4 separate regions of the Homo sapiens genome follow, and all the other regions are linked to region 3. Evidence: fine-mapped expression QTL. A gene starts in region 3. Each other region holds a variant in brackets. All regions are shown on one strand. Distances are between the middles of the regions.

Region 1 (8,268 bases), 200 kb after region 3:
TGTGTGATCTTGGGCAAGTCACTTAACCTCTCTTTGCCTCAATTTCCTCATCTTGAAATGAGGATAATAATACCTGCTGTACCTACCTCACAGGGCTGTTGTGAGGATTAAATGAGATGGCATGTGAAAGCACTTTGAAAATTGTAAAGCGCTATGTAAATGTAAGGTATTATAGAAACATCTTTAACATATAGTTTCATACCATTCATTTTTTAACAAAGAAAGGGAAAAGTCTGCTTGTAAGCTGGTTGAAAAAGTTAATCTTGATATAAATTTGTGTTTGATAAATATCCTCTCAGTGTTTTATCTTCCATGTTTCAACAACTATTGAAATATGAAATGCCTGTGAACTCTTAAAGCTTCATGAGCAGCTGCTTGAGTTCAGGAAGTTCACTGTTAGAAATAGGCTTTGTTAGCTGACTAGGGTCAGGGAAACTTTTCTCTTCAAATTTGAAAGCTGTTTCTGTTTTCATTTTACATTATTATTCAGAAATGGTAGCTATTCTATACCTATGGTTTAAGTAAATATTTCTGAATAAGGCTTCACCATACTGTAAGCATTTTAGGTAGATTGCCTTAAAGGTTATGGGAGGGCATGAGGGAACACTTCTTATGAGAAAACATTTATAAACAAAAGAAACATTTATAAACTAAAGAAAAACTAAAAGAATGACAGAACAATCATCTTAGCACCCTTTCCTCACAATAATATAAAAATATTAAAAGAACATAGGCAGGCTTTTTTTAAATTTGGCTTTTTTCTTTCCTTTTTTCAAATTGACTTTTATAGGTATTTCCTGAAAGTGTATACAAATTATTTCCTCGCCCAAAATAAAGCACCACTTCAAGGTGTGGTTTGACATTACATGCTAATGAACAAACCCAGTATGCAAGTTATTCTTGCACCACATGCTCAAATCTTCTTGAGGTGCATTAACTCTTTTAGGTAACTAGAGCAGTACTTGGTGAACTAGATCAGGAGGTCAGTAAACTTTCTGTGGAAGGGCCAGAGAGTAAATATTTTAGGCTTTGCAGCCCATACGGTCTCTGTCACAGCTAGTCAACCCTGCCATTTTACCACAAAAGCAGCAATAGACATTATGTAAACAAATGAGCACAGTTATGTTCCAATAAAACTTTATTTACAAAAACAGATGACATCCCAGATGCAGACCATGGGCAACCAACCATTGCACTGGCCAAATCATTATTTATGGAGAAATCCTCTTTGTGTCTCTACTCTAGATGCCTAAAAGAGTTTATATACTTCTAAAAGCTCCTAACTTATATCCAAAGAATTGCTTTCTGATTCGTGTAGTCTCTCCCACAGATTCATAAACTTTTATGACTTATATTGTTTCCAGGTGGGCATGGTTTATTTCCCAGTTTAACAGTTCAGAATAGGGGCATTTATTTTATCATATTTTAGGGTGGGTTAGGAGTATCCTTTCTGGAGACTGAGAAAGGGGTGTATTTAATTCCATCAGGTCCAGTACAGTACTAGGAGTCATAATACTTTATAATCAATTAAATAAATAGAACCACTGAGACAATAATGTATTTTTTTAAAGTGGCAAATGTGGTTTTCTTTTTTCAGCCTTTGCGCTTTTTCAGTATTTTGACCATAGGGAGATAATTTTTTTATAATACAAAAGTAACCACTTGGAATTTTAAAGATAATGTTATGTGTGTATGTGAAATATATATACATATATATATATATGTTTATTTCCTAAAAGAAGAAAAGATACCTTTCTGTTCAACTTGTATCAACTCCTCTTTTCTAATTGCTGTGAAATGGCAACTGTTGATAAATTATTGTGATTGTTTTAAAATCTAATGGGAAGTAAAATATATTTTGATTTTACCCAGCTTAATCTGTAAAGTAGCACTTAAATATATCTGATAGCAACACTTAAGATATTGCATGGGGATTACTTTCCTATCATCCATATGCATTTGTGCAACTTCAAACATATTGGGTGCTTCTGAATTCCTGATGATTGGATTTAAGCTATTGAAAATTGGATAATTTAAACTTAATGATTTTTATAATTTTCTGATCTTAAAATTTGGTTAATGCCTATAATCTGTTGCTTTTTCTCAATATGTGTCCTATTGGAAATTCCTCAAATCGTTGGTGCCATCAGTGATTTACAAACAATATTTTGATATTGCAGATGACTTGCTTACTGTATTTGCATTGTTAGAAAACAGTTTGTAGACAATGATTCTTTTTTAATAAAATCAAATAATTCTAAAAGTGCTAGAGAATTTAACTAAAAGCTGGTTCCCAAATGCATAGCTGGCATTTTAATTTAAATTCAAATCTACATAGAGAACATCTGTGTAAATCATCTAACTGGATTTTTCCATTGGTCATTCCCAAACACACCTATGGTCCTAGAATCCTTAAGAGAAGCACCCTGTAACCTTTTATGTGGTTTGCCTTTAAGAGGCCCAGGTGCTTCTCCTTTATGATTTGAGTTGGCCTCTTCATAAATTAGTGCTGTTTACTTTCAGAGGAAGCAGAGAAGTTGCTGTTATGTTTTTGCATCCGTTTACCCTATGCAAAGTTGCTGTATGATGCCAACTAAACTACTCTTTAGGCAGCCTTCTGAGGAGAAAAGCAACCCTGTTTCAAATCCACTGCCAATTCAGCTCCTCTGGAGTGGAGCTTTCTGATTTCTTGGAGCAGGAATTTTAGAGATTGAAATGAATGATCATTTAGTCAGATTTATCCTGTAATTTCATGCAGCTTTGTGGCCTTTGCAGTACTATTTATAAAATGGACCCTGATGGTGATGAACTCTTTAGAACGCATTACTGTTAAGCCTGTGTTGAGACATTGATGCTGTCTATCTCATTTTTTAGACAGTTTTTGTAGCTTTCTATTGAGAGTCAGGTATGTGAGCATCTCTGAAGCAGTGTTGAATGTAATTTTCGGAAACATGGATTGTGTATTTTGACTTTTATTTTATAAATACACAGCTCAACAGTGCCTTTTTTTTCCCTCATAGTCCTGTTGGAAGATGCTCACTACTTTCTCTCTTCTCTCTCCCTGCCCTCCCCCACTCCATTCAGTTGATTCATTTATGCAAATTCTGTTTCCAACTTGAAACCATTTTGTCACATCTGTTGGAGAGATAATCACTCCTTTTCCTTAACATTCTGCCAGCTTTCTGATGTTGAAGTGTTTCAGTTGACTACCTGATGCAAAAGCTATAAAATAAACAGTGGGAAGGGGAAAAATTGGTGTCCTGTTTTAATATTTTCTTTTGTAGCCTTGACACTGATGGACATTTTCCAAGCTGACTCAGTGTTCAGTGTCAACTTAACTCTCAGATAGTGTTGCCATCAAGAAAGCATGCAACATCATTGGTTTCTAATGATTTTATGGCTTGTGACAATATTTTATCTGGACTGACATGCCTCTGCTGCTTTTGCTTTGTACTTCATTGCTGGTAATAAAATTTCAGATGGAAAACTTACAAAATATATACTTAATTAGAAGAAAAAAATAGAGAAAGGGCTATTAGAATTAAAAAAATTTGAAAGTAACTTAATCTAACATTTATGGCACAGTTTGGACATATCCATAATTTTTTTTGGGAACACACATTTCTGATTTTTTTTTTCCCCCTTAAAGAAGAAAGTCTCAATTCCATTGATTTTCAATTCTTAGCCACTGGCTCATTGCTTTGAGCAATGCTTGATTGATTCTATTTATATTATATGATATTGGGTTGATAAAATACCAGTTCAATGATGAGTTTTCTTAACAGAATTTGGTTTGTACTTGCAGTGGCTGAACAAAGAGCATGGCTTGAGAATCAAAGGGATCTGCATTTAGCAATGTGATGTCAGTAAATGGACATAACAGGATTGTTGTAAAGGTTGGGCATGATGTATGCAAAGTACTGGCCAGGGTAGACTAATAACTGATGGCATTTATATGCTGTGCTGGAATATTGTTACCAAGCTGATGTGCCGTTCTCACCCTGCAGAATACTGGTTTTGTCATTTCATAAATGATATTTTTATAAATATTTTTGAATGACTGTACTTTTTACTGATTATCTTAATACCGCCTCACTTATGTACCTGTAGCATAAATATTCCTGGTTCTGATTCTTGCTGTTCTTTCCACATACAAATCACTCATTTGTACAGATTAAAGGGGGGAAACGCTGACTGTTCTAAAGAAGATAGGACTTGCTTATTCCAGAAATGACTGAGTTCATATCTTAGTATATTTGAACAGTAAGGACTGCTAAATAGTACACACATAAAATTCAGGATCACAGGAATGAAATGATTTGCACTCTTTGAACAGAAAGGACAGCAGCAGTGTAAGGAATAGGCTCTCAAGCTAAAAACTGAGAACATGAAAACCTCTGAGGACCTGACTGCAGTTGTCAAGAAAAGTAGAGATAAGGTTGGGGAGAAGCAGACAGATCTCAGGGCCAGAAACGCCAACATTTGGTGACAGGTGGGATATAATCAATAAATGGGGAATGAAGGCATTAACTTGGGTTTGTAACACAATGCATCTGTGCAAATTTTCAGCACCCCTTGCTTTTGCCTCAATTAGGCAATGATGATTACTTCCTGTGTCAAAGCTTATAAAACAGACTAGTGTTTTCCCAAAGAACATAGGATCACAAAGAAAGAATTCACTGTCTCCCTATCAGATGTTTGGCTTCCTTGCCTCTTTTGCTCTTCCAGATTTTGTGACCTGGGTTAGAGTTTAGAAAGAACCCCCTAGAAACTTTTCTGATGTTCTCTGGTTTGATGATGAAGGCGTCTAATAAAACACATCAACTCTAAGCCTCTACCTCTACTTCTCTAAACCTGAAGTTTA[G/A]AAATGAAAGTCATGCCTGGAAATGTTTCACATCATTAGCACTGACAGCGTTTACAGGGAAATAGAGAAAACGTATATGGATTAATTTTCTTTTAGATCAAGGGTGTGGGCAACTAGATTTCTAGAGCCTTCAGCCTGTCTATCGGTGATGCTGGAAAAGGAAGAGGATGAGCTGTAAGTGCAGTAACTGACCCCTGTCTAGGTTTTCTTGCTAAATACGCCCTCCATGAAACAGACAACATAAGTATTTTGAACTGTAAGAATGTTAAGAAATTTCTGTCCCTGAGCAGCAGATCGAAGAGTGATTATTCTGGGATTCTAGAATCAGTTCATTCTTTTCTTTCTCCCTCTCCCTCCGCTCTCCTTTCTTTCCAGTTTAAAATCACTCAGTCTCTTAGTAGAAATTTAACATCAAAGAACTGTCAAACTTGCTAATTTGTGATTTTTTAAGCATGTGCCGCCTTAAACTATCAAAGCTTTAACCTGTATCTAATTAAATGTTAAAATCTGGCAAAGAGTAGACCTACAGTCCCCAAGTGATCTGGTTTCTGAACTTTGTTTTGCTTTCACAAATGTGAGCCAATTTGCCCTAAATCTGGGTATTTCATGTAGCATCTTGAGAGATGTATTTAAAGTGCCTGTGGCAATAACATTTCATTTGTACCCATTTTGATGATTCTGGGTGCCCTCTTGATAAGGCAGCCAGGTTGTGCTGTAAAAAAAAACAATGTAGAGGTTTCAGTCTTAGGTGTTTGAAACTGTTGGATCTCTCAAAATTGATTAGCTGAAATATACCTTTTCTGCGTAACTGAATTCACCAGTAATTCCATTTGAAGCGGGCAGAGCCTTTCTGAAAATGGATGATCAGAAATGAGTGACATTTTATTCAACCAAGAGTTACCAGAGACATATTTTTTTTCCTTTAAAAGTAATTTAAAATTCGCCAGAGGATTACTAATTAGGTCTCTTGGCATAGCATGGTTATCTGATCAGACTGTCATGCCCATAAACAGTAAAAATGCAGCATGTTGATCCATTCATGTCTGTTTTTAAAGGAGGCTGTGGACTTTAAACTCCTCTCTCGCAGGCTTGCTCTTTGTTTCATGTGGGGGCTCTTTGAATAACACCTTAGATGAGAACAATGTTTAAGAAATAGGCCAGTTATATTTTGCTTTTCTATTTCTACCATGCTAATGGCTCTCTACTTGATCGTTTAATCACTGATCCAAATCCAGATGGAATTAGATGCTCCTTCCTGCTGTAGTCCTGCAGTCAGACAGTCTGTAATGTTTGATACGGATCTTCTGAGTGGACAAGATGAGATTAGATTAGTCTCTCTGGGAGCCAGCCCTATTCATTTTCTAAGAAAGTTATACTGGAGGCCTGAGGACTGCCAAGAGCAAAGTGGAAACAGAGCCCAGCCTTTTCCTCTTATCAAGATCCACAGTAGTTCCACATTAAGTAGTGGAGATTTGAATAATATTGGATCAGAATCCAGGAAGGAGGTCCTTGCCACCCACGATTGAAATGTGAACTTCATGTGTTACAACTTTATTACCTTTTCTTATTTTAATATATGACAAAGACTGAAATCTCTGGCATGGAGTCAGTGGCAAATTTTACTTTTGTGGGTTTTTTTTTCTACATTTAGTATTTATTGAGCCCCCACTGTTTGCCAGGCACTGCACTACAGGCTCTCTCTGCACCATGAGCTTAACCTTTCAGTAATCCTCATATTCAATCCTTTACAACTGTTTAGAACTTTATAATTTACAAGGCGCTTTCATTTCACATTTATCCTCTCATTAGATTCTCACGTGGAAGGGTAGATACCATTATCCTCGTTTTACAGTTGAAACTGACACAGCTAGGAGGTGGAAGATGGGCTCCCCAGCCCTCAAGATTCCTAGTCCATCAAACCCTGATGCCCTTCCTGATATGTGCCTGTCTCTCAAAGTCAGCAAGGGCTGTAATACAGATTAAACAATTGCAGTGGTTCTTAGGCTATAATCCCATCTCTGGACCAATAGTGTCAGCATCCCCTAGGAACTTGTTGAAAGGCAGATTCTTAGGCCCTAGCCTTCTGAGTAGGACCTAGCACTATGTTTATTAATAAGCTTTCAGGTGGTTCTGACCAAGACTAAAGTTAAGAACCACTGGTCTAGAGCACCAGTTTACAGATGAGACGACTGAAGCTCTAGTTGAGCTTAACCTAGCTGGTTAAGTAACCTAAGGCTTCTCATAACAAAAGTTGTGAACTAGGATGTGAACCCAGGTCAGTCTGGCTCCAACACCATCTGTTTTCTACATTGGACTGCGTTATAAACTATAGTGTATCTTATATATTTCATTATTGGTAAATTCCTCTCTGAAATATCGTTTTGGGGGACCACAGAGCAGGTCAATAAGAAGAAAAAAGTCCCAATGTGCTCTTCTGGAGTAAGGCAAACAATGCCACCCCTTCTAATGAGTTTCTGTTTTCTGTGTGAGGTGAATGTGGGGGCTAAACCTCAGCGTGGCTACTAGTGTGCTCAGGAAATTCAGGGACAGAGCCGAGAATCCAAAATGGCTACCCAAACTAAGTGCATTTCATCTGGACTTTCTGGTCCCAGTGTTCTTTGGTCATACTTAATAGTTTACTGTGATGGATTTAATGGCAAGAGGGCTCCTTGCCCTGGCTTGGCAATATCTGTGGAGCCATGGGTTGACGTAGTGTGGGAATACTTGTGGCTACTTGGAAATCCCTGTTGCTGTCATCATTGGCAGTGCTTCCCAGCCGAGATTCTTAGTCTGTGGTCACGTGTGAACTCTTCCAGTCATGCAGCTTAAACAGAAGTGCCCACTTGTTTCTCACAAATTATATCTGCATTTTTTTTTCTCCTAGAAGCAAGAGCCCAGACCAAGGGTTAGTCGATAGCTCAAGGGACTTCCAGGGAAATCAGAACTGATCTTCGTGCATAGCAATGCTTATAGGCTTCCTTCCACACACACTGAGAGATCAGCAGGGCAGTGGACTGAGCCTTCGGGTGCAATGCATTTCCTCAACACATTCTTTTTGAAAGAGGAAGATTGTTGCCCATGTATAGTGTACTTCTTATGTGCCGGCACTGTACCAAGTGCTATGCATTTGTTAACACTCATTTCATCCCCCCTTTTTTTTTAAGAGAAAGAGGATCTCACTCTGTCACCCATGCTGGAGTGCAGTGGCACAACCATGGCTCACTGCAGCCTCGAACTCATGGGCTCAAGACTCAGCCTCCCAAAGTGCTAAGATTACACGCTTGAGCCCCCATGGCTGGCCTCATTTCATCCTCTTAATCCTCTGAGGAAGGTACTACTAGCAGCCCCATTTTACAGATGAGAATGAATTAGAAGTTCAGATGCTTTCTTACAGTCACACAGCT
Region 2 (8,268 bases), 160 kb after region 3:
AAAGAAAAAATATATATTTGAATGTATATTAGAATGTATAGATATTTGAATATATATATTTGAAGCTGAAGTTTGCATTAAATAGAGAATACTAGAAAGCAAAATGTAACTGCTTTTGAAACCACATAGCAGATAGGTAATTTTAGAGGAACCATGAAATTTAAGTGAAAAGCATAGCCATGTGCTAAACATAGTTTCTAATGCAACACCAAAAAGAAAAAGGATTTATGGTAGTATTGTTTCTACCCTTCTAAGTCATATTGTTTCTACTCTTGTTAAGTCATATTAGCATTTATAATCACTTTATAATCACTGTCCTGTTACAGTTTTTTAATTTATAATTTATAATCACTTTATAATCACTGTCCTGCTACATTTTTATAAACCAGAGAATAACTAAATCGGGTAATAAATTTCAAAACCTTTTCTTAAATTATAAGTAATTTCTCTTTTAAGTGCATTTTTATACTGTGAAGTTTAGTATTCCATGCAATCTTTGTGTGTTTGAGAATTAGTTCAGGCTGTAGGAATTCTATTAGAATGTAAAGTGACTTTTGAACTGCACTGAAGTACTCTGTGGTCTGTGCTATTCTGCATTTGTTGACTCTTTATTCCTTTTTGTTCTTGATATACATATGTATTATCCTTCATAAGGAATTCTGAAGCTTTGGTCCTCAAAACATTTCTTCAACAGCTCTTACCTAGTTCTTGAATAGGAAGATTATGTTCCAGGCTGTACAGCTGTTTTAGAATCAACTAGATCCTCTTAGAAACCCAAGCAATTTACCCATGTTTTCCATATCCCTTGGTTCTTTGCTTTTGTTTTTTGTTTTCTTTTTTGTATCTTTTCTAATCATGGTCCAAAGTTCAGTGTTCATAACTTCCTTATAGTGTCCTTAAAAACTTAGTTCGTATCTGTTTTTCTTTCCAGAAAGGGCTATTGCAAGACACGAAGTCCGAGAAATTGAGCAGCGACATACAATGGATGGCCCTCGGCAAGATGCCACTTTAGATGAGGAAGAGGACATGGTGATCATTTATAACAGAGTTCCCAAAACGGCAAGCACTTCATTTACCAATATCGCCTATGACCTGTGTGCAAAGAATAAATACCATGTCCTTCATATCAACACTACCAAAAATAATCCAGTGATGTCATTGCAAGATCAGGTAATTACCACTTAAGGAATGCCCAAATATTTTCTAATACTTCCTCACTCAAATTTTCTAGCTCAAGGGGATAAAGTATTTTAAAGGGATGTGAGTGCTGATCTCAGTGGATCATAAGCCTTTTAGGGGAGAGGGCCAGCTAACTTTTGTATAATTTTACTTGACAGTATTTGACACATTTCCTTGCATATAGTATGTACTCAAATATTTGTGAAGTAAATGAATTAATGAATAGCTTGAATTTTTGAGAAAACTGATGTTCCTGAGCATAGTATCCTTTTAAAAATATAATTTTGGCATGATACCCTGCAATAAAAATTATTGTCTCAACTTATGATGGAGAAATATTTGATGGATACTTGTATTCAATTTTGTGACCAGCCCCTCTTTACTAGATAGAGATAGAGATAGATACAGAGAGAGTTTATATATACATTGCTTATAAATGTATATATAGTTTAGTTGTGGCTTCTTCAACATAATCTTACCTTTTAAATTCTCACGAAGTTTTAGATAAACAGATGAATAAATAATTTTGTGAAATGGTTTTAAGAAAAGTAGAGGAAATTATCTTATGAAATAAAATTTGCTCATCTCTTTAATAGTAGTAGCATACATTTCTCCCACACCTGGAATTTTGACTGCAATTATAAATAAAGTTCTCTCTATAAATATGGAAGGGCATGGGAATTCCACCCCATGAGAAGGAAAGATAATGTTTGCAAATACTACTTAGGATCAAATACCAAATTGGAGTAGGCTTATTAGAAAGATATTTGTGATGGTCCTGTAGTTACAATGATATTTATCTGTTTGAAAGCAGTGAACTTGTTACAGAATTGACTGTCATCTCACTATTTAGCATAACTATAATCCTTACACTTAAACAAGAGAATTACATTGAGACACAAGACTAAGGTTGGCTTTCTTGCTAGAGAGCTGTTTGTAAAGGCTAGTAGTATATGGTATGTCATCTGCCCATGTAATTTTTGGCTCTTTGCAGAATCCTGGAGTACTCTTTTTTGTAGAACCAAAATTCCACATCTGTCGGCCAAACCAAATAACTCTTCTATGAATGAGAAGAAACATGAGTTGTTTTTAGCTATGTGTGTCATAAAAACTATTCATTATGTAATATTGTGTATCTCAAGGACAAGTATCCTAAATATTCTGTTTTTATACAGTGTGTAGTAGGTTTTAAATCTTTTTGCATTACTGCTTTTCAAAATATGCTTTGGTTTAAAAGGAATATGTATTCATGCTTAGATAATAATTTCAGATTTATTCAGTAGTACTTTTTAGAAAAATAATGTTAATTTGTTTGTTCAGCATTACAAAGTCCTGGTAACTGCAAGATGTCTGGCAATGACATCAACCATTATTTTCATGAAATATAAATCTGGAGGAGCTCACCACATATGACATTTATAGGCATCATGTAGTAGTATATTTTCCCAGTTGCATTTGGATGAGATAAAGCTTCTGTTTTTCTTTTAATAACTTGTTGGTTATGTATAGGAAAAAAAAAACAGCAGGAGAGAAGCATAAATGCTATCTTAAAAGCAATTGGATTGCATAATGACCAACACTTAAAAAATGTTTGTGTGGGGCAGCGCAGAAGAATAGTCTTAATCATTAGCTGACATACTTCAAAATTATCAGCTGGTAGTCCAAAACCTGATCTTAATTAAGAGTAACTTACTTAACAAATGTTCTTTATATACCCTATCTCCAGTTTTGTGATCTCTTGTTCTATGTAGACGCAGTTCTTCAAACAAGTTATATTTACTGCTTCCCCTTCTTTTGTGTGACATGTTTTCATGTTTACTTCACTTTTAATCTAGTAAGCTTCATCTAAATGTAAACTAAAAATTGCACTGTATTTCTTAAAAATAATTTTTAAATATTCCCTGAACCCCATCTGATATAACACACTTTTATTTTAATAATATCATATTTTGTTGTCTCTGTGTACTGTTCTCAGCTACCTTTTTTTTTTTTTTTTTTTTTTTTGGAGACAGGGTTTTGCTCTTGCTTCCCAGGCTGGAGTGCAATGGTGCGATCTCGGCTCATTGCAACCTCTGCCTCCCACGTTCAAGCAATTCTGCCTCAGCCTCCCAAGTAGCGAGGATTATAGGCATGCGCCACCACGCCCAGCTAATTTTTGTATTTTTAGTAGAGACAGAGTCTCACCGTGTTAGTCAGGCTGGTCACAAACTCCTGACCTCAGGTGATCCGCCCACCTAGGCCTCCCAAAGTGCTGGGATTACAGGCGCCTGGCCTCTCAGCTGCTTAAATAAGAATTAAATGAACTATTTTGCTCTTTTTTCTTCTCTAAGAAATAGTTTCTAATCAAGTACAACTTAAAAGATGAGATCTTTCTTAAATCTGTTGTCTCCAGCTTCCGTGTAAAGCTCAGTTTACTCATAAAAATATTTTGAGATATGTTACCTGACCATCCTCTTTATTCCCTCACCTTCCAATCTTAGTTCAGTCTGCTTGATATCTGCCTTTAGCCCCAGCTTTCCTAGACATTTTTTGTACATACTATATTAGGTATTGTTCTAAACTGTTTACCTGCTTAATTATTTGTCTCAAAAATTTTAGAGGCAAAGCCCAAATATTTTTAGTCTGGTATAAAACCACTCAATGTATAATAGTTATATATATTCTGCTATCCTTAGAAATAGTTGTCAACTCTGCTTTTGAGTTTTTCATTTATTTGTTGTGTATGTAATATACACAAAGGTTGTACTACATTCTTTGGGGAAATAACAAAGAAATAGAAAGCATGGCCACATCCTTGAAGGAGCTTATTTAAAATTTACTTGGGAACATAAAACATAAACACAGGGGCTATGAAAACAGTTAAAATAAAACATCAATTTGTGGTGATCTCACTGAAATATTTAACCAAAAGTGTTCCCTAC[CA/C]AAATGTTTGATTTGGACCTAATCCCGAGAAAACAAATTAATGTAGAATATTCTACAGAACAACTGACTTCTAAAGTGTCAGTATCATAACAACCAAAAAAGTTGGAGGGAGGCTTCTCTAGACTAGAGAGACATGGAAACCAAATGTAATGTATGGTCTGTGATCAGATCCTTGATCAAAAATGATATCTTTGTTCATAGACATAGTACATGCTGAGGTAATTAGGGGTTAAATATGAATGACAACTATTTGCTTTCAAATAGGTCAGAAAAAATTGAGTATGTATGTGCATACATAGAGAAAAAAGATAAAAGTGACAAAATGTTAATAATTAGTGAATCTAGGTGAAGAGTATAGAGATGTTCACTGTCCTATTTTTTCATCTTTTCTGTAGTTTAGAAATTTTTTTAAATAAAAAAGTTGAAAAGTTAAAAGAAGGATATTAAAAGATAAACATTTGAGAATATAAGGTATGAGAAACTAAGCAATTAGAATAAGGTGTGGACTCAGTCATTAAAGATACATTTTTGCGATGGGCTTTACTTAGTTAATAGAGAGGAATTGGCAAGAGATAGGTAATCAATCAACTCTTCTAGTTGAAAAATGGAGTTTGCTTTGCTGTCATGTGTTTAGCCATACCATATATGTGATTAGCCACATCTTTTATGATTTTTCAAAAAAAGAATTCTTTTTTGCTCTCATATGTTTAGGTCTATGATTATATATAACCCCTTTTGTTAAAACATTGGAAATACCTAGAATTTGTATTCTCTGAAGAACAACATGAATTTTTTTCTTTTTGAAATTCACTCTCAAGCCAACTTTAGGTTATCTGCGTTAGAGCCCACAGTTCACCAGGAGTTGCAGATACTTTTCAGAGCAGCACTTTAGATGAATTTTCTCCACCTATAATGTGTATGCTAATCACTGGTTAAAATGCAGATTCAGATTCAGAAGGACCAAGATGGAGCCCAGTTTTCAATTTTTAAACAACTCCCACTGGATGCCAAAATTAATGCCGCTGGTCTTTAAACTGCAGTTTGAGTAACAAAGATACAGATGATGATTCTCAGTAGGGATATGGGAAGATGAATACTTTAGTCTTCCCAGGATGGTAGGGTACTTATCTTTAAATTGTTATTCCTACCTCCCCTACAAAATCCACATTTCTTACATAGACCAAGAGGCCCTTTTTAATCTAGCCCTTGTGTGCACCAACTTCTTACCCACTAGCCACACTGGCCTTGTGTTTCATTGAATACGCCAAGCCTTTCCCATTTTAAGGCCTCCGCACTTATCCTTTCCTCTTAGAATGCACTTCTCCTGGCTTCTTCCAGAGTTGGCTTCATGTTATCCATTTAAGGTTTAATGACATCCTCTTAGAAAAACCATGCCTGGCCATCCTACATATTAATTACCTCTTCTAAGTTACTGTGTACTGTATCACTCTTGTTGTGTCTTCTCTGGTACTAATCAGCTTACTAACTTATCTTATATATTGGTTTGTTTACTGCCTGTCTTTTCCTCTATTATAAGATCTTTAAGGATAGGAACCTTGTCTGTCTTGTTCACTACTATATCCCTTATGTTTAGAATAGTGCCTGAGACATAGTAGAAACTATACATTTTTTGTTAAATAAATGATGAATGAATGAACAAATGGACCAACATAGATTTTGATAGCGGTAGATGATAATAATTACTGGCAGAGTGAGCACCTCTGATTGACAGCAGTATGATCTATTCTTATCTCTCAGGTGGATTGGGAACCAGCCCCCTGCCCTACACTCCTAAAACAGGTTGAACAGCACAGCTCTGAACTTCAGTGAAGATATGTTCAATTACTGCAAACTTTTCTTATATTTTTATCCAACCACTACTTTGTTTTCCTGTGAGTGTAGAAAACTTTCTCCCTGGCTTAGTCTCATAAAAGTACCCACAGCCATACAAGAAATGTTTAAGTAAATGCATGAGTGGGAGTTTGGTAGATAGTAATTACTCAAGTTAATAGTAGCATTCATTCAACAGATAGTAATTACAGAGTTGGAATTTGGCCAGAATGTTCAGGATGACATTCCTGCTCTTTTAGATAGTGAAAACAAATGCTTTTGTTATCACAGATAATCATAATATTGAGGTTGATCTATTAAGAATATAGGTCAAGACACTACTGTTAGTGAGAAGGGTGCTTCTTAGCTTTTTCCTGTAACATCAGTTTAGGTCTGATTCAACTAACAAAAAACCCCAACACCATTACCTATATTGTTTGTGTTTTTCCTTAAGGTCTCTTCTTATTACTTGCTAGCCTGACTTGAGTCATCAAATCCAACAAAAATCACGGTTTACACTCTGCTTCAGGCTAGCTGCGTTTCATGTACTATATCTGACTACTACATCTGAAACATTCTTCTTGGTAGCATATTTCAGTCAGAGTATGAAAATTTTCTATGACTAAAGTCACTGTAGTGGCCTTATTTCTTCTCCCCAAGCCAGAGTTTTCAGTGTCTTCAGTCTCCTTAACTTCAATTGATACTATTAAGTTTTGCTCCTTTTTTGGCCTATCACTTTACCTTTCATTTGTGCCAAGTATAGTCAGTAAGAATCCATAAAGTGAACTGAGTAGAAGTTTGCTTACCTAATCTCAGTGTCCTCTTCTTACTCCTCTGTATTTTCAAACCTTGTCTCAAGGTCTTAGGCAGCATGCCCAAGAGAAATACCAGAAGAAAACAAACTGAAAGACAAAGCAAGTGGTGCAGGGAGGTGAGAAGGCAGATCATGATAGAGCAGAACTGGGACTAGACTGATGAGAGAGAAAAGATGAAGGTGAAAGAGTAGAGACCAGGAAAGTTCTGGAGAACTAAGGATAAATATTAAACTGTAAAAGGAGAAGTGGCCGAATTAATACTTTAAAAATAAAACTTTTAAAAGTACTGTTTTTCAAAGGGAGTTACTCATATTATTTCCTTGGAGAACAGTTTTGAAGAGGAGATAAAGATAATATGGAATTTCAGCAGTATGTAAATGATACTTTTTTTTTTTTTGAGACACAGCCTTGCTCGGTCGCCCAGGCTGGACCAGGCTGGAGTGCAGTGGTGCGATCTAGGCTCACTGCAACCTCCACCTCCCGGGTCCAAGCGATTCTCCTGTCTCAGCCTCCCGTGTAGCTAGGATTACAGGCATGAGCCACCACGCCTGGCTAATTTTTTGTATTTTAGTAGGGACGGGGTTTTACCATGTTGCCTTGGCTGGTCTCAAACCCCTGAGCTCAGGAAGTCCACCCGCCTCGGCTTTCCAAAGTGCTAGGATTATAGGCGTGAGCCACTGCACCTGGCCAACACTTTCAAATGCTCAGACTGTTTTCTAGATTAGTGTGAACCATGTTAGCCATACTGACATCATTTATTTGCTTCACACTTTTTTCTTCGTCATAAAGAGAAGGTAAACCTCAGTTCAGCATCTTTTGATTCATTGTAAATTTTAAATCGGCCACAGCTATGTTAATGAAACTTTAACATATTGCCTTAGTTAAATGCTGATGAGATGAAAGAAAAATACGTATGCCAGATATATTACATGTCTAGCCTTTAGTATGCTTTTAGTTTGAGCTTAGAAAGAGATTCTGTGTGTTTTGAGGACTTTAACAATAGTAGAGGCCAGGCACAGTGGCTCAGGCCTGTGAGCACTTTGGGATTCTGGGAGGCTGAGGTGGGAGGATCACTTGAGCCCAGGAGTTTAAGAACAGCCCTGGTAACAACTCTACAAAAAAAAAAAAAAATTTTTTTTTTCTTTAAATCTTGGCTTGGCATGGTGGTGTACTCCTGCAGTGCTGGCTACTTGGGAGGCTGAGGTGGGAGGACCACTTGAGCCCAGGAGTTAGAGGTTACAGTGAGTTATGATCATGCCACTGTGCTGTCCGGCATGAGTGACAGAATGAGATTCTGTCTCAAGAAAGAAAAAACAAATAGATTCTAGAGAATTTTAAAGCAATAATAATCACCTGAATTTACCTCAGATAGCATGGATTTAGGAAGTAAAATTCAAAATCCTACATAGATATTTAGATGTAGTCTCTTGGTTTCAACCAGGAGTACTCAGCAATCCCAGTGGTTACCCAAGATAATAAAAAGACAAGGGAACAAACGTCAAGGGTTATTGTTAAAATGGTT
Region 3 (8,268 bases):
ATTCTATTGAAACATCTTAGTTCAGGGAGAAAGAGATAAAGAAACAAAGGCCAAGAGTAAATTAATTTGCCTTAGTCAGTTATTAGAAGTTAAAACTAAAAAATACATTTCGTTAAAGTAGTGTACTTCCCACTAAATTATACGTCATGAGTATGAATTCAATAGGCAGAGTTTGAGAGAAAAAGGCTGTGTATGATGGCTGTCTTTGGGAATATTTGGTGGAATGGTGTGGCTGTGGCTGATCACCCAGTAGTTTTATTTGATGGTAAGTTAGGATGTTCCATCCTGTGGGGGTCACATTCACAAAAAAATGAGTAAGTTGATTCCTGCCTCAAAAGGTTTCAGTCTGGCTGGGCGCGGTGGCTCACGCCTGTAATCCCAGCACTTTGGGAGGCTGAGGCAGGCAGATCATGAGGTCAAGAGATCAAGACCATCCTGGCCAACATGGTGAAACCCCGTCTCTACTAAAAATACAAAAATTAGCTGTGCGTGGTGGCGTGCACCTGTAATCCCAGCTACTTGGGAGGCTGAGGCAGGAGACTGGCTTGATCCCGGGAGGCAGAGGTTGCAGTGAGCCGAGATGATGCCACCGCACTCCAGCCTGGCAACAGAGCAAGACTCCATATCAAAAAAAAAAAAAAAAAAAGGTTTCAGTCTAACATGTACTTACCAGCTAGAGTTGCACAGCTACCACAAATTTTTGAATCATATCTAAGGCAGAGTCCAAGCACATGTATTTTTTAATCTCTCCTCCTCCCAACAATTTTCATCTACACACCTCCAGTTGGGATCACTGATAATAGAGCTCTATGAAGGTAACTGAAGCTGATTTTAATAGTTTCCAAACAGATTTCATACTTCCAGGTTTTCAGACCTTTGCTTGTGGATTCTCTAATTCATTCATCAAACATTTCACTTATACATCAAGTATAGTACTACTCTGTATATGTGTCACTAGAGATAAAACAGTCAACAGGAAAGACAGGGTACTTCCCTTTGGGAGTGGGTAGGAGAATGCCAAAGAACAAGAAATTATTAAAGAAAACTATGGAACGTATCTCAGAGAATAAATATTGATCACCACTGGAGCACACAGAAAGACTCTTAATCCAAACTTGAGGGATAGCGAAGCTTTGTTGGAGGAAGTGATTTCTCTACTAAGAACAGAAAGAGAGTAAGTAGAAGACAGCCATTTTTGTTGTAGGGTAGGAGAAAGGGAGGAAAGGATGAGACGCTGGGAAGCGGCTTGTAGGTAATGAAAACACCATGCTCAAAGGTCTGGTGAGGGAGAATACAGTATGTGAAATAAGCTAAACAAGTGATGCCAATTCTCCACTTGTACCTTTCTGCTCTCCTAATAGAAGTAAATGTTGGGGAATAAGCCTGGATAGACAAACAAGTGCCTCCTTAAGGAACATTGAGGAAGACAGACTTCACCTTAAAAAACAATAAGCAGCCACTGAAGAGTTTTAATCATGACAGATTTAAATTTTAGGCAGATCACTTGATGCACTGTAGAGATTGGAAATGAAATAATGAGATGGGAGACTAGTTAAGGAAGCTGTTGTAATTCTAGGCAAAGATAGTAGCCTGAATATAAATACTAACTGTGGAAACAAAATTATTAAGTGGACTGGCTTAGAGATTTTTAAGGCTTTAACGACTAATTGAATTCAGACAGTGAAAGGAAAGAGGATTTAAAATGACTATTTTTTTTTTTTTTTTTGAGACAGAGTCCTGCTCTGTTACCCAGACTGGAGTGCAATGGTGCAATCTCGGCTCAGTGCAACCTCCGCCTCCTGGGTTCAAGTGATTCTCCTGCCTCAGCCTCCCGAGTAGGCATGCGCCACCACGCCCAGCTAATTTTTATATTTTTACTAGAGACGGGGTTTCACCGTGTTGGCCAGACTAGTCTTGAACTCCTGACCTCAGGTGATTTGCCCACCTCAGCCTCCCAAAGTGCACTGGAATGAGCCACCACAACTGGCCAAAAATGACTAATTTTTGGCTTGGGCAATTGGGAAGCTGACAAAGGCAAAGCCAACCATTTAGATTCTGAATACAGCCAGGGATAATTCAAACGGTGAACCAAGACGCTGTTATTTCTGAGGAGAGAGATGTTTATGGCCTGAGTGATTAACAATAAGTGGATGGATTTGAGATACTTAGGAATTAAAATCAGTAAGTTTCAGTAATTCCCTGGATATGATATATGTAAGGAAAGGAGTCAAACATGACATCCAAATTTCTAGTTTGGATTCTGTGCACAGTCACTGTGGTACGCTGTTTAATTAATTCCTATCATTATTACATATGGAATTAGTTAATTCCATAAATACCTCCTATCCTGGTATGCACACTTTGCAAAGTGACTCTGTCATTCCTCCCATGTAGAGATGAAATCTATTTCTCCATCCCTGAATGTGAACTAGTCTTGTGACTTGCTTTGAGAAATATGTGATGGAAGTAATATATGTGATTTCCAAGGCAAGGCTTTAGAAGGCATTGTAGCTTTTGCTCTTTTGGAGTGCTGCCCTGAGAGTGCCATGAAAAGAAGTTGGTCTAGCCGACTGGAGGATGAGAGGTCACACGGAACAGAACCAAGTCCTCGAGCTGACAGCACCAACTATAAACAGTGGTAATCCTGGAACCTTTCGGTTTAGCTGACCTACTAGGTCAACAAAAAGCATAAATGAGGCCAGGGGAAAACCAACATAGGTGGAGTAGTTCTACTCCACTGACCCAGAATTATGAGAAATCATTGCTGTTTTAAGCTACTAGGTTTTAGGGCGGTTACACAGCTATAGACAACTGACAGTCAAAGACAGAGGGAGATCAAAAAAAGACAACCTGAAATGTTATCTCGAATGACCTAAAGATGTGCAAAAACCCTTAAACAGTAGAAAGTTTAGGGAGAGGTGATCCAGTAATTCCTAGCACCAAATGCCTGAATAACAAGATAATTGGAATGTTAATTACAGAAGTTAAGAATCTACCTTTTGGTTAAAGTAGCCAAAGCAAACAGCCAGGATGCTTTCAAGCTCTTTGAGAAAGGTAAGTACAGGTGTTCATAGAGGACTCCGGTGTAGTCCCTTAACACCCTCAACCTTGGATAAGTAAATTAAACCAGGTCTCCTTATTAGAGACTACCCGAAGAATTAAGCTAGGATAAAAAAACGTAAAAGCTTTCAGCACTGTGCCTAAAATTTTACTATTCACACAGCAGAACATGGATATGAGAAGAAATAAGTTAAAAGTACACTTTTCCCATTCAAAGGTCACCCATCTATTCTGCCAATAGAGAAAAATGAAATAAAAAACGCTGCCTTAAAGAAGACAACGAACATCATTTAAAAAACTAACTTCAAAAATGAATTATACTTTGGTATAGATAACTCCTTTTACTCCAACAACATTGTTTAAAAGCACAAATCGCACTCAAGCGCAGCCAGCCGTATATGAATAGCAGAGGAGAACGGAAGTTAAGAGACTAACAGAAGTAGTGAAAATGAGAGAGCACGCGCGCGAGAGAGGTAAACACAAACTGTTCGCCTGGACCAACGACTTGAAGACTTGCCTCTAAGAGTTGGAAGTCTCGTCATGAGTCTCTTGCATTTCTGTCCATTTAAAAACAACCTCCACTTCTTGCCAAGCTTTATTATTCCCCCCTCCCACCTGGTGTGGTTTACAGATTGTTTTTAGCAAGAGCCGTATAAGAGAAGCTACGTACCCAAGACAATCTGAAATCAAGAGAAAACTGCTGCTAGAAACCCAAGGCGGGGAAGGAGAAGGATCAACCGAGAAATTAAGCCACGTTGCATTCTGGCCGCAGCAGTCATTAAGGAAGCGCAGTCCTCCCCACCCTTTTCAACCAGGACCGAATGTTGCGTCTTTCTCAGCTGCAATCACTCCTACTCTCCCTGTGGCAGCTGCGAAGGTGATCTACACTCACCGCTTGAAGCACAGTCGCCAACAACAACCGTAGCCCAAACGCCGGCACCAGACACCCACTCGGCCCAGCCGCCATCGCTACCATTTTCCGCAGGTTTCTGGCTGCCTAGAAGGACCCCTAAGCTAGGGGCGTCCACTCCAGAGCCTGATCCAAAACAGAACGCTAACGGCCGTTGCCCTTACATCTCTCATTTGGAAGTGACAGGTATTAAATAACGGCATATGAAAGCTTAAAAGTCATCAAATACAATCACTGGGTGCTTTCGATTACCCAAATCAGGCACTTGCCTAAACTCCCCACTTCTTTACTTCTGCGGTCTCCTTTCTTTTATTCACGACACTTCGTCAAGCAGCCAAGAAGCCACGCCTTCGCCAGTTTTAGCCCCGCCTTCTTCTCCAAGTTTACCCAATTGAATGTCGTCTTGATTGAGCTCTGTGGCAGAGGAAACCAACCGTAAACCGAACCAAGAGCGAAGCGCAGGGGCTCTTCCGTCCAATAAGCGGACCCGAACGGGGGGAGGGGCGGGGCTTCTGGTTGCCGAGCAGCGTACGCGGATGCGTGCGCGTGGTGGCGGAGGGGGATGGGCGGGGGCGGGGATGAGGGCGGCGCAGCCGCAGCGCCGGTGGAGGGGCGCGCGGCCGCGAGCAAAGGAGGGAGGGAAGGAAGGAAGAGAGGGAGGCGGGCAAGCAGGCGGGCGCGGGGGTCGGGGACTGAGGCAGTAGAGGGAGGCGAGAGCCCGGCAGCCGCTTCGCGCTGTTTGCTGCGCGGGCTTTTGGAGGGGGCGGCCGTTTAGTCGGCTGAGGAGAAGCGGACACCAGCGGCGTTGGTGATAGCGCCTGGGGGAGGGGGACTGGAGAGGCGAGAAGGGGGGTCGCTGCGGTGGTTCTCTCGCTGTCGCTCTCTCTTTGCCTCGCTCCCGGCTCGGCGGGCTCCTCCCGGCGTCTCTCTCGCCTCCGGGGTCCCGCTCCCCGCCCCCCGCGGTATGTCTTGATCCCGAGCAGCGGGTTTCATGGGGCTCCTCAGGATTATGATGCCGCCCAAGTTGCAGCTGCTGGCGGTGGTGGCCTTCGCGGTGGCGATGCTCTTCTTGGAAAACCAGATCCAGAAACTGGAGGAGTCCCGCTCGAAGCTAGGTGAGGAACTGAACTGCCCCGGGCTGAGTGCTGTGGAAGGGGCCGAGGAGGCGCTGCCGCCGGAGCAAGTGGGCGTTCATCTAACCTGGGGTCTGGCTCGGGGGCTGAAAGCGGTTTCAAAGAGAACCGGGAACAAGGGGCAGCGAGAGCACGAGCTCCAAGAATGGGTTGAATTAAGCTTGAGCGGCGTGCTGGGCTCGCGAGGTCACGGGGCAGAGGTTGCAAGGTTGGGCTTCCCTAGCCAAAGGGTAGCCCCGAAGTAGGCATTCCGCGGAGAGAGAGCGAGAGAGAAGACCGAACTCAGTGGGGAGCGTGTGTTGCTGGTCTCCGGAGACAGAAGCGCTTAGCATCGCGTGTTCTCTTGGAAGTCGTACAGGAAGCCCTGGCAATGTCAGATGAGGGGTATTCTAATTTGAGCTATGGGCATCTGGATACGAATTCTTTTGGGGGCTCATGAAGGGATAGGTGCGCAGAAATGGGAGGAGATGCTGGGATGACGGAGAGCAACATGTGAACACTGTAGCGAGTTGCACTCTTGTGCTCCGGGCAGCAAAGGACCTTGTAATTGCCAGCTGAGGGAGGCTGGCCGGGTAGTGCGGGAACGCGAGTGCAAAGCTTCATCGGAGTACGGAAATGAGGGTCCGGAGATTTAAATTCTTCTTTAGTGGCGCTAAACTGATGAATTGGGGCTTGAGAATAGGGATGCCTATGTATGTTGCTTCACGGCAGTGTTGATGTGAATTTCGAAGAGGAGGGAACGCTGAAGGGGAATTATGTAGTGAAGTTTGTGTTTGTTAAAGGAAAAGTAGGATTATGCGGAAAGCTAACCATATGGTTAAATACCTTAAAGGGTTAACAGGTGCTTTAATGGATGAGGGGGTCTAAAGTACAAAAAGTTGGTGTGAAGTTGTGAAAGACAGGCCAGAAAAAAGCACAGATAATAGGTACTTTCGGATTAATAGGGCACTTTGGCATTTGGAAGAGCTCAGCATGGAGAGCGAGAGTTAAAAGAATGACAGTGATAAATTTTGATTTAAAAATGTACATGGCACTTAAAAATCAGCTCAAGAGGATGTAATTTGAATATGGAAAAGTAATGTGAAGTGTTTTTTGCATACTCTCACCTCAAAATCATTTTAAATACCTTTTGAGAAGCCAGCAAAAACAAAAACAAAAAACCCTCAGCAGTGTAATTTAGACTAAGAAATAGATGTTACTGTGAGTGGATGATTAATTTTTAGGAAAAATGTACCAGAAAATAATTGTAATATTATGTATAGTAGCTATTTTGGTACAAGGCTTTGCAAAAGCCTTGACATTTTAAAGAGCCTTGAAAGAAAAACCATCAAGTAAATCTGAGTGAAGTGCAACTAAAGTTGGAGGAAAACTAGAGTTACTTCCAGCCCTCAATTCTAGAGTAAAATTTGAAGAGATACTCAGTTTATTTACGAATTCCTTTATTAATATGTATCTTGTGTGGTGGAAAAAAATGTCCACTTTAAATATTGAAGGTTATCCAGTCTGGTTTTTCTTTTCTTTTGGATCCATTTAGCGACATTCAGGGTCATATTCTGGCGTTATTAATGATCCAGCTCTACAGAAAAAAAGACTCCTCTTGAAGTGGAAAGTTATATTAAAATTAAAATTTGTACTTATTTTTTGTTTTGTTACTATTTGGAATTGTCTGGAGTTGATTTCTTAGACACGTTACAGTGGGTTAGAATGACTTAAATTTTTGATTTTCCTCCTTTCCTAACATTTCTTTCCCCATATACTTGAAAATTGCTTCCATAGACACAATCTGAATGATTTTTAAAAGAAAGTTATCTGAAGATGTATAATGCCACAGTTAAAATATAAAGTGCTTTCTTGTGATACAAGAAAGAAAATTTCATAAAAAGTAGTAAATATGCATCAAAATCCTCCTGGGACTACAGATGGGTATACCTGGGAGTACAGGTGGGTGTTACCATGCCTAGCAGAGGAAACCATATTTTGACAACCATATTCTGTACTAGGCACTTTTCATCGTAGATACTCGTGTTTAAAGTAAGAACACCATTTAAAGCCATTTTTGACCAGACACGGTGGCTCACGCCTGTAATCCCAGCACTTTGGGAGGCCGAGGCCGGCGGATCATTTGAGGTCAGGAGTTCGAGACCAGCCTCGCCAACATGGTGAAACCCTATCTCTACTAAAAATACAAAAATTAGTCGGGCGGGGTGGCGGGCGCCTGTAATCCCACCTACTCAGGAGGCTAAGGCATGAGAACCGCTTGAACCTGGGAGGCAGAGATTGCAGTAAGCCAAGATCACACCACTGCACTCCAGCCTGGGCAATAGAGTGAGACTCAGTCTCAAAAAAAAAAAAACCAAAGAACAACAGAAAGCCATTTTTGCAGATGCAGGAACAGGCTTAGAGAGGTTATATAACTTGCCCAAGACCACATCGCATTTAAGTGGCAGAGCCAGGATTGCAACCCAGGTATGTATGATTCCAAATCAAGTGCTCCTTTAATTATGTCCGGCTGCTTAAGACTTTATATTGACATTACGCTGAGATTTAGGTATTTGAATAGAGTTTTAAAATTGTAATATCAGTGTTTAATTGCATTTATTGCTAAGAATGAATATCATTCAGAGAAAATTGAATTTCTGATACAAAGGAATTGGTTTAATGTAACGTCTGCCCCTTGTTTAGATTCATGTAATGAACATAATTATGTTACCCAATGAAACAACTGAATTAGATAGCTTATTTTTACTATAGGAAAGAAAAATCTAGCTGTTTTCCATACGTGCAAAATCACAATGTTAAAAAAGCATTTTTATTTTGGCATAAAAAACCTATTAAACATTTTGTCCTTAAAAGTAGTTATTATCATTTTCATTGTAGAAGATTCCAAAGGATAGTATTGTCTGATAGTGGCTTTAATATACCTTGATTTGAGAGTACAGTATTTTGATGGTGAGACTTCTAATAGAGCAATAGATGTATTCAAAACTGAGGTGTACTCATTGACTACTTGGGAAATTCACTAATTAGGAATTCCTAAAAAAAAAAATTCAGTAATACAGCTTTTTATTTTTATTTTTTAAAAAACAAATATGGCATTGTAGTCCACATATTACAATGCGGCTTGCTTTTTTTGCCTTGAATGTTATACACATCTTTCCAGGTCAG
Region 4 (8,268 bases), 110 kb before region 3:
TGTAAGTTATAATGATATTTGTTCCTCTAAGTAATAACATAACTCAAAGGTTATGATGTAATTCCCCTGTAGGACATTAAGCAGTTTTACATCTAATATAGCAGTCTTATTTCAGCATTCCTTTTTTCACTGACTATACACATTGAATCAGCTTTCTTATCCTGCCAGTTCCCTCATAAATGAATTGAATAAAGCCTTGACACATGCATCTATTTGTATGAGAATTATCTTTATAGCAGTTTGGAAATTATGCCTTGATACTCTATCAGCATGTAACAGAATATGAAATAGCAGAATGATCCCATTTTAAACAAATGAGTCTGTCTTAGTTTGGTTTCCCAAGAAGTAAACCCTAGGACATAGATTTGAGTAGAATAGCTTATTTTAGAGGTGCAGGGACTACTAGAAGGGAAGTAAGGAAATGACAGAGGGAATAGCAGGCAGCCACCAAAGGGTGGTCATTAAGCCTGCTACCATCCTGGGCAGCGATGCAGCTCAATCCACAGGGAAACTGCAAGACAGAGTAGAAAATATGTGTGTCAGAATTATCCCACTCAAAACTGGGGGAGCTGGGATATTTATACACCAATTCCTATAAGTATTAATTGAAGACTGCTCCTGGGTAGTATCAATTCCCCAGCACTTCCTGCCACCTACATGGCAACTTTTCTCAGTGCTGGAGAAAGTTCTTGTGCATGAAGAGACAGACATAAGCCACGGGAAATCTTGGCATTTTCTGAAATGGTAGCATCCAAGGGATATAGACAGGATACTCAAGACCTTTTTAAAAAAACAAACAAAATAAAACATTTGCATTTAGTGGGAAATAATGTTATACTCAAGGTCACAGAACCCAAGTTCAATGCATCAACTTCCTCATGAAACAAAATAACTCTTTTTTTTTTTTGATGGAATTTCGCTCTTGTTGCCCAGGCTGGAGTGCAATGGCATAATCTCGGCTCACTGCAACCTTCACCTCCCAGTTGCAAGCGATTCTCCTGCCTCAACCTCCCGAGTAGCTGGGATTACAGGCATGCACTACCACGCCCGGCTAATTTTTGTATTTTTAATATAGACAGGGTTTCTCCAAGTTGGTCAGGCTGGTCTCAAACTCCCGACCTCAGGTGATCCATCTGCCTCAGCCTCCCAAAGTGCTGGGATTACAGGCATGAGTCACCACGCCCAGCCTAGGAACTCTTTTTTAACTCTTTTTTCTATGATAAAATATCCAGATTTGATTCTTCATCAAAGGACCTTTCCTCACAATTAGTCAACTGCAAAGTACTCAGAGCACAAGGCAGCTGCTTTTCTAAAAGAAATCTCTATTTCCAGACACTTGAGGGGTCTTGAGTAGTACATTTGCCATCAGAAGTAAATGTATTAACTATATAAGATGGTAAATGATCTTTTTGCAACATGAATGGAAATTATTGGTCAAATATTTCATTGTGTCTTCTTTAAGGTACATTTAGAACTTTTTATAATTAAATAGAAGCCTTTACAAAGTATTGGCCTAAATCCTAAATTATTTTCAAAAGTATTGATTTAACATGGTTTAAAAAAAAAAAATGGCCTGGCACGGTGACTCACACCTCTAATCCCAGCACCTTGGGAGGCCGAGGCAGGTGGACCACCTGAGGTCAGGAATTCGAGACCAGCCTGGCCAACATGGTAAAACCCCATCTCTACTAAAAATACAAAAAACTAGCCAGGCGTGGTGGCAGGCTCCTGTAATCCCAGCTACTCAGAGGGCAGAGGCAGGAGAATTGCTTGAACCCAGGAGGCGGAGGTTGCAGTGAGCCTAGATCACACCATCGCACTCTAGCCTGGGGGACAAGAGCGAGACTTCATCTCAAAAATATATATATATTATATATATATAAAATATATATATAATATATATAAAATATAATATATATAATATATAATATATATAATATATTATATATAAAATATATAATATATAATATATATAATAAAATATACATAATATATAATGTATAATAAAATATACATAATATATAATATATAATAAATATATAATATATAATATATAATAAAATATATAATATATAATATATAATAAAATATATAATATATTATATATAATAAAATATATAATATATTATATATAATAAAATATATAATATATTATATATAATAAAATATATAATATATTATATATAATAAAATATATAATATATTATATATAATAAAATATATAATATATTATATATAATAAAATATATAATATATAATATATAATAATATATATAATATATAATATATATAATAAAATATATATAATATATAATATATATAATAAAATATATAATATATAATATATATAATAAAATATATATGATATATAATATATATAATAAAATATATGATATATAATATATATAATAAAATATATAATATATAATATAATATATAATATATATACTAAAAAATATATAATATATAATAAAAAATATATAATATATAATATATATAATATATAATAAAATATATATAATATATGATATGTATAATAAATATATAATATATATAATAAAATATATATATATTTTTTTTCACCTTACAAGAGGATTTCTTGGCCTGGTACCATGGCTCACACCTATAATCCCAGCACTTTGGGAGGCCGAGGCGGGCAGATCACGAGGTCAAGAGATTGAGACCATCTTGGCCAACATGGTGAAAACCCGTCTCTACTAAAAATACAAAAATTAGCTGGGCGTGGTGGTGGGCGCCTGTAATCCCAGCTACTCGGGATGCTGAGGCAGGAGAATTGCTTGAACCTGGGAGGCGGAGGTTGCAATGAGCCAAGATCGCGCCACTGCACTCCGGCCTGGCGACAGAGCAAGACTCTGTCCCAAAAAAACAAAAAACAAAAATTAGCTAGGCATGGTGGCGGATGCCTGTAATCTCAGCTACTCGAGAGGCTGAGGCAGGAGAATTGCTTGAACCCAGGAGGCGGAGATCGTGCCACTGCACTCCAGCCTGGGCAACAGAGCGAGATTTCATCTAAAAAAAAAAAAGGAGGACTTCTAGATACCCAAAAAAAAAAAAGGAAGGAAGACTATGAGGCAGGAGAATTGCTTGAACTCAGTGACTCGAGATTGTGCCACTGCACTCCAGCCTGGGCAACAGAGCAAGATTCCATCTCAAAAAAAAAAAAAAAAAAGGAGGACTTCTAGATACCAAAAAAGAAGGAAGACTATGGACCACACCATCAGATTTATAAAAGAGAAACTTCCATGTTCCTGGGTTGCTAAAAAGCCCCATTGTGAGCCTGGGGGAACTTTATGAATGGTCCAGCTCAGCTGTGCTGCTCTGAGGCCTCTGAAGATCCACACTGAGGCCACACCGGCATGGTACTATGTCCTGTGCACTCAGAGAGTGAGCAAAAATACCTCCCCTC[A/T]AGTGACATGGGCACAAAATTAAAACTACTTCAACTCAAATTCTTGCTCAGGATGTTCTCTATTTGTTTCCTGAACACCAGATTATCTGGGTCAAAAACCAAGCCTCCAGCCTATAACTAGAAAATGAGGGTTCCTCAGAGTTCTACCCAAATCACAAGGGCATGATCTCCCACGCCACCTTCTTTGCATTGCTACATGCACATATGCAAACACATACACTGCAACCAGAACTCAGGATTTCCCCTTAAGTCCCCTTCCTCTCTCCCCAGGTATTTCTGAAATGGGAACTCCATGTAGGCCCATGCAACACTGTCAGCTGCAGGTGCCCACAGCAGCTACCCTGTTCTTCTGCCTGGCTCCCACACCATTTTCTGTGAGTAGCTGTCATCAGCCTCACCCCCTCCCAAGTTTCACAGAGAATCACTAGAAAATAATTCCTTTAGTTTCTTCTAACCAAAGAGACCAAGATGGGAAGGAGATCTATACCATCTATACCATTCAGCACTCCTCCTCCCGCTTCTTCTCCTTCTGCTCCTTTTTTTTCTCCCCCACCTCCTCTCTTTCTTTCTCCTGCTCCTCTCAACCTGGCCCTCAACCATAACTCTTCTCTCCTTCCTGAGTTACAGAGCTGAAGTTTCCTGGCACATCGAGGGATGCAAAGAGTTACAAATGGCAGTGGGAGAAAGAGCCTTTAATACATCTTTCAGCGGTGCTGACCTGCAGCCAGAATTTACCAGCCCTTCCTCTGTTCTAGTGCCATTGATCACCAAAGCAACAAGAAATATCTGAACTAGAGGGAGCCACTCCAGTTTATCTGATTTCTAAGTTGCTATCACTCAACAAAAATCCTAATATAAATCAGGCACTGTGTAATGTGGGTGTCCTAAGATCAACATAACTTTTTTCTTCTTATTATTATTACTACCTTAGTTCAGACCACCAACACCCCCTCTCACCTAAATTACCTCGATGCCTCCATTTTCCCCAACCCCAACATATTCTCATATGGTTCCCAGAATAATTTGTCCAACAAAACATTTGATGGTGTCAATGTTGTAAAGAAAAGCGAGTTATCTTTTAAAATCTTTAATACATTCCCTCAGAACTCACAGCAAAGTCCTAACATGGTAAAGCTTAAAAGACCCTTTGTGATCTACCTTCTGCTCATTTTTCCAGGCTCATCTCTTGTCCCTGGCCTCCCTGGAGATGTCCAGAGATGCCCCCTTCTCTCTACTCATGCTTCTCACAATTACAGGAATATGCTCTTCTCATCCCTTCATCTGTTAATTCTCATTAGTCTTCAAAGTCTTAGCCTAGGCATGAATTCCTGTAGGAAGCGTCCTCTGACTCAAGGCTGGGTTAGAGTCCCTCCTGGAGTTGACACCTTTGGAAGTATCTAATTAGCCCATGAGCCACACCTCCTTCTTTAAGAACTGAGCCTCACTTGCCCACTCCCCCAATTTACAGTCACTGGCCCCAGAGCCATGTTTTTACTATGACCTTGCCAATTAGACAAGGGTTAAACCCTTCATTGAAGGGGGACAAATTAGATTCCCCTCCCCAAGAATTTGGCATAGGGGCAGGCCATCCAGCCTCCTGGTCAGGCTTCAACATGTAAACCCAGGAATGAGCTGTGGGATGGTCATATCCCTCTGTGGGGACAAAGAAGCATGAGGCCAGGCTGCAGAGAAAAATGCAGCCCACCAGCAGAGAAAGACTACTTCTGGGGCTCCCAGTGGCTCTCCAGTTCCTGGTTCTATAATAGTCCTATTTGACATACTGCTACATTTTTATTTTTTTAACTCCTCTCTTTTGTTTAAGAGAGCTCAGTTGTTTTTTGTTTCTCTAAGCCAAAGTCTTAACTAATACATCCTTCTTGTGCTCATTTACCACATGCTTCAATGGCCTGTTCACTAGTTTGTATCTTTCATTGAAAGTTGTAACCTCCTTAAGGACAAAGATTATGTTTTATTCGTTATTGTTGTATCTCAAACACAGTGTTTGATACATCATAGGTATTCAAAAATTGTTTATTGAATCAAGGTCATAGTGAATACTTATTGCATACTGATTATGTACCAGGCACTATTGTATTCACTCATTCAATTCTCACAAGAAGAAAAAGTAATTACTGTTTTGTTTTGTTTTGCTGATGGACTCTCGCTCTATCACCCAGGCTGGAGTGCAGTGGCGCCATCTTGGCTCACTGAAACCTCCGCCTCCCGGGTTCAAGCAATTCTCTGCCTCAGCCTCCTGAGTAGCTGGGATTACAGGCATGTGCCACCACGCCCAGCTAATTTTTGTATTTTTAGTAGAGACAAGGTTTCACCATCCTGGCCAGGCTTGTCTTGAACTCCTGACCTCGTGATCCACCTGCCTCGGCCTCCCAAAGTGCTAGGATTACAGGCATGAGCCGCAGTGCCCAGCGCTAATTACTGTCTTTTTATACCTACTTTACAGATCAGAAAATTAAGGTGCAGAAAAGTTACTAGCCCAAGACCACAAAACTAGCAAATGGAATTTAAGTCTATGCAATTTAAGTGGGATTTAAGACAAGCTGGGAATTAAGTCTATGCAATCTGACTCCAGAGACCATGCTCTTAAGGAGGCCTCGCCCTGCTTAACAGAAATAAGAGAGAAGGGATGCAGGACACAGTGCCTTTCCCAGAGTAGCTTATAGCATTCTTTTCTATCTTTCCTATGGTTTTCATGGTTTCGTGACACCCATTTGGTACTGTATCTTATGCAGTCATGTTGTGTCTAGAATTGGTGGGTTCTTGGTCTCGCTGACTTCAAGAATGAAGCCGTGGATCCTCACAGTGAGTGTTACAGTTCTTAAAGATGGTGTGTCCGGAGTTTTTTCATTCTGGTGGGTTTGTGGTCTCACTGACTTCAGGACTGAATCTGCAGATCTTCACGGTGAGTGTTACAGCCCTTAAAGGTGGCCCGTCTGGAGTTGTTTGTTCCTCCTGGTGGGTTCATGGTCTTGCTGGCTTCAGGAGTGAAGCTGCAGACCTTCACAGTGAGTGTTACAGCTCATAAAGTTAGTGTGGACCCAAAGAGTGAGCAGCAGCAAGATTTATTGCAAAGAGTGAAAGAACAAAACTTACACAGCGTGGAAGGGGACCCGAGTGGGTTGCCGCTGCTGGCTAGGGTGGCCTGCTCCTTTATTTGGCCCCACCTACATCCCTACACCCTGCTGATTGGTCCATTTTACAGAGAGCTGATTGGTCTGTTTTGACAGAGTGCTGATTGGTGCATTTACAAACCTTTAGCTAGACACAGAGTGCTGATTGGTGCATTTACAAACCTTTAGCTAGACACAAAAGTTCTCCAAGTCCCCACCCAACTAGCTAGACACAGAGTGCTGATTGGTGTGTTTACAATCCTTTAGCTAGACAGAAAAGTTCTCCAAGTCCCCACTTGACCCAGAAGCCCAGCCAGCTTCACCTCTTAATCCCCCCCTAAACAGGACACCCCAACTGCTGTTGGGAATTTGGCTGATGACCGCTCTAGCTACTTCCTGCTGGATAGGGGTGAAGAAGGGGCCCTGCAGTTGTAGTGTCCTCCAGAGGGGAACTCTTTAAGCCAGTGGAAGGGCCAGTGGGTTGGTCCAGGGGTCCTCAGTAGAAGTTGTTAGTTGAACTCATTTGGGGTTCCATTTGTAAGACCATCTGTAGCTTGATGGCCTTAATTCTAGGGGAAACAAATTTGACAAGGAGGTTAAAAACACAGGGCCTGAAGGCAAGTAATAGCAAGATGGCTACCACGGGACCTAGAAAGGGGAGAAGCCATGTTGCCCAACTCCAGAGGTTGGTATAAGAATTGTGAAAGGTGTTTTCTGATTTCAGAAGCCTTTTCCTGTAATTGCTGGGCAGCATCTCATACTATCCCTGACTGGTTAATGTAAAAAGAACACTCTTCCCCTAAGAAGGTTCAGAGTCCTCCTTTCTCAGCAGTGAGGAGGTCTAGGCCTCAATGGTTTTGGAGAGTCACTGCTGCCAAAGAATCTATTTGGGATTGTAGAGTAAGGATAGATTTCATTATTTCTTGCAAACTGTCTGAGAAAGCCTTTGAGAGTGTGTGGTAGTAAGATAATGCATGTTACACTGTTAACTTTTAGCAAACTCTACTTTAGTAGAAAACCTTGTAAGTTTGGAATTTTAATTTTTCTTTGCTATTAATAAAACCTCATTCAGTCCATATTAACTTAGAATTGGTATAGATGTCTCCTTCCTGATTCTGTAAGTACTTTAAGATTTGGTTTAGTGCAAACAACTCACACATTTGAGCAGACCAATTATTAGGCAATTTTCCTAACTCTGCTTCTACAAGAGTTTCCTTAACATTTACTGAATACCCATTGTGTCTTTTTTCCTTAATCGCCCAGGAGGAACCATCTATCCTCCTGTCCTAAAGGGAGTTCCTCCTCTGTCTGGTCGGACCTTCAGATTTAGATCCCCTGTTAGGAAACCTGCTGGGTTAAGGATTTTTGATAGGAAGGCTACGGGTTGTCAGTGGCCTCAGTGCTTTCGGGCTACCCCCTTGTTTACACTAACAAGGTGGTATTGGAGTGTTATAGGGTCACAGAGAAGACCTTCAATTATCAATTATAGGTTTTAAATTTACCCTGGCTTTTAAAGGAATACGGTATACTGTTTTTTCTTTACTACTTCCATCTCCCTTTCTTTCTCTTTGACTTATTCATCTTTCACTTTCTCACTCCCTCTTTGTCTGTCTTTTCCTCTCTTTCTTTGACTTTCTATGTCTTTCTCTCGCGTTCTCTGTCTCTCTCTTTGACTCCTTCTCTTTGTCTCTCTGTTTCTTCCTCTCTTTTTTC

Which allele goes with the higher level. Positions count from the first base shown, and alleles are read on the strand shown. Sizes are in standard deviations (SD) of each study's normalised expression. Not every link is listed here.
In carriers of allele C in region 2, the expression in monocytes after R848 of the gene that starts at base 4,560 in region 3 tends to be higher than with CA alone (moderate effect, 0.43 SD a copy in Quach 2016).

The links. PIP is the estimated chance that this variant, and not a neighbour inherited with it, causes the effect.
Region 1: its variant is fine-mapped to the expression of HS2ST1 in whole blood (TOPMed, PIP 0.92).
Region 2: its variant is fine-mapped to the expression of HS2ST1 in monocytes after R848 (Quach 2016, PIP 0.95).
Region 4: its variant is fine-mapped to the expression of HS2ST1 in whole blood (TOPMed, PIP above 0.99).

The regions. Positions count from the first base shown.
Region 1 is chr1:87,105,934-87,114,201 of GRCh38, forward strand. It overlaps HS2ST1 (heparan sulfate 2-O-sulfotransferase 1), which reads left to right. Exons shown (of 7, transcript NM_012262.4): 7 at 1-4,049. Among named protein-coding and RNA genes, the nearest start is that of LINC01140, 20 kb to the right of the region's middle. The variant G/A (reference allele first, on the strand shown) is at 4,865.
Region 2 is chr1:87,072,003-87,080,270 of GRCh38, forward strand. It overlaps HS2ST1 (heparan sulfate 2-O-sulfotransferase 1), which reads left to right. Exons shown (of 7, transcript NM_012262.4): 2 at 932-1,170. Among named protein-coding and RNA genes, the nearest start is that of LINC01140, 54 kb to the right of the region's middle. The variant CA/C (reference allele first, on the strand shown) is at 4,101.
Region 3 is chr1:86,910,076-86,918,343 of GRCh38, forward strand. HS2ST1 (heparan sulfate 2-O-sulfotransferase 1) reads left to right here and starts at 4,560. Exons shown (of 7, transcript NM_012262.4): 1 at 4,560-5,085. The coding sequence starts at 4,962. It overlaps SELENOF (selenoprotein F), which reads right to left and starts at 4,051. Exons shown (of 5, transcript NM_004261.5): 1 at 3,953-4,051. The coding sequence starts at 4,036. RefSeq lists enhancers at 3,348-3,962, 3,811-3,860, 3,963-4,577, 3,971-4,130, 4,181-4,300.
Region 4 is chr1:86,795,435-86,803,702 of GRCh38, forward strand. No RefSeq gene overlaps it. Among named protein-coding and RNA genes, the nearest start is that of SH3GLB1, 95 kb to the left of the region's middle. The variant A/T (reference allele first, on the strand shown) is at 3,428.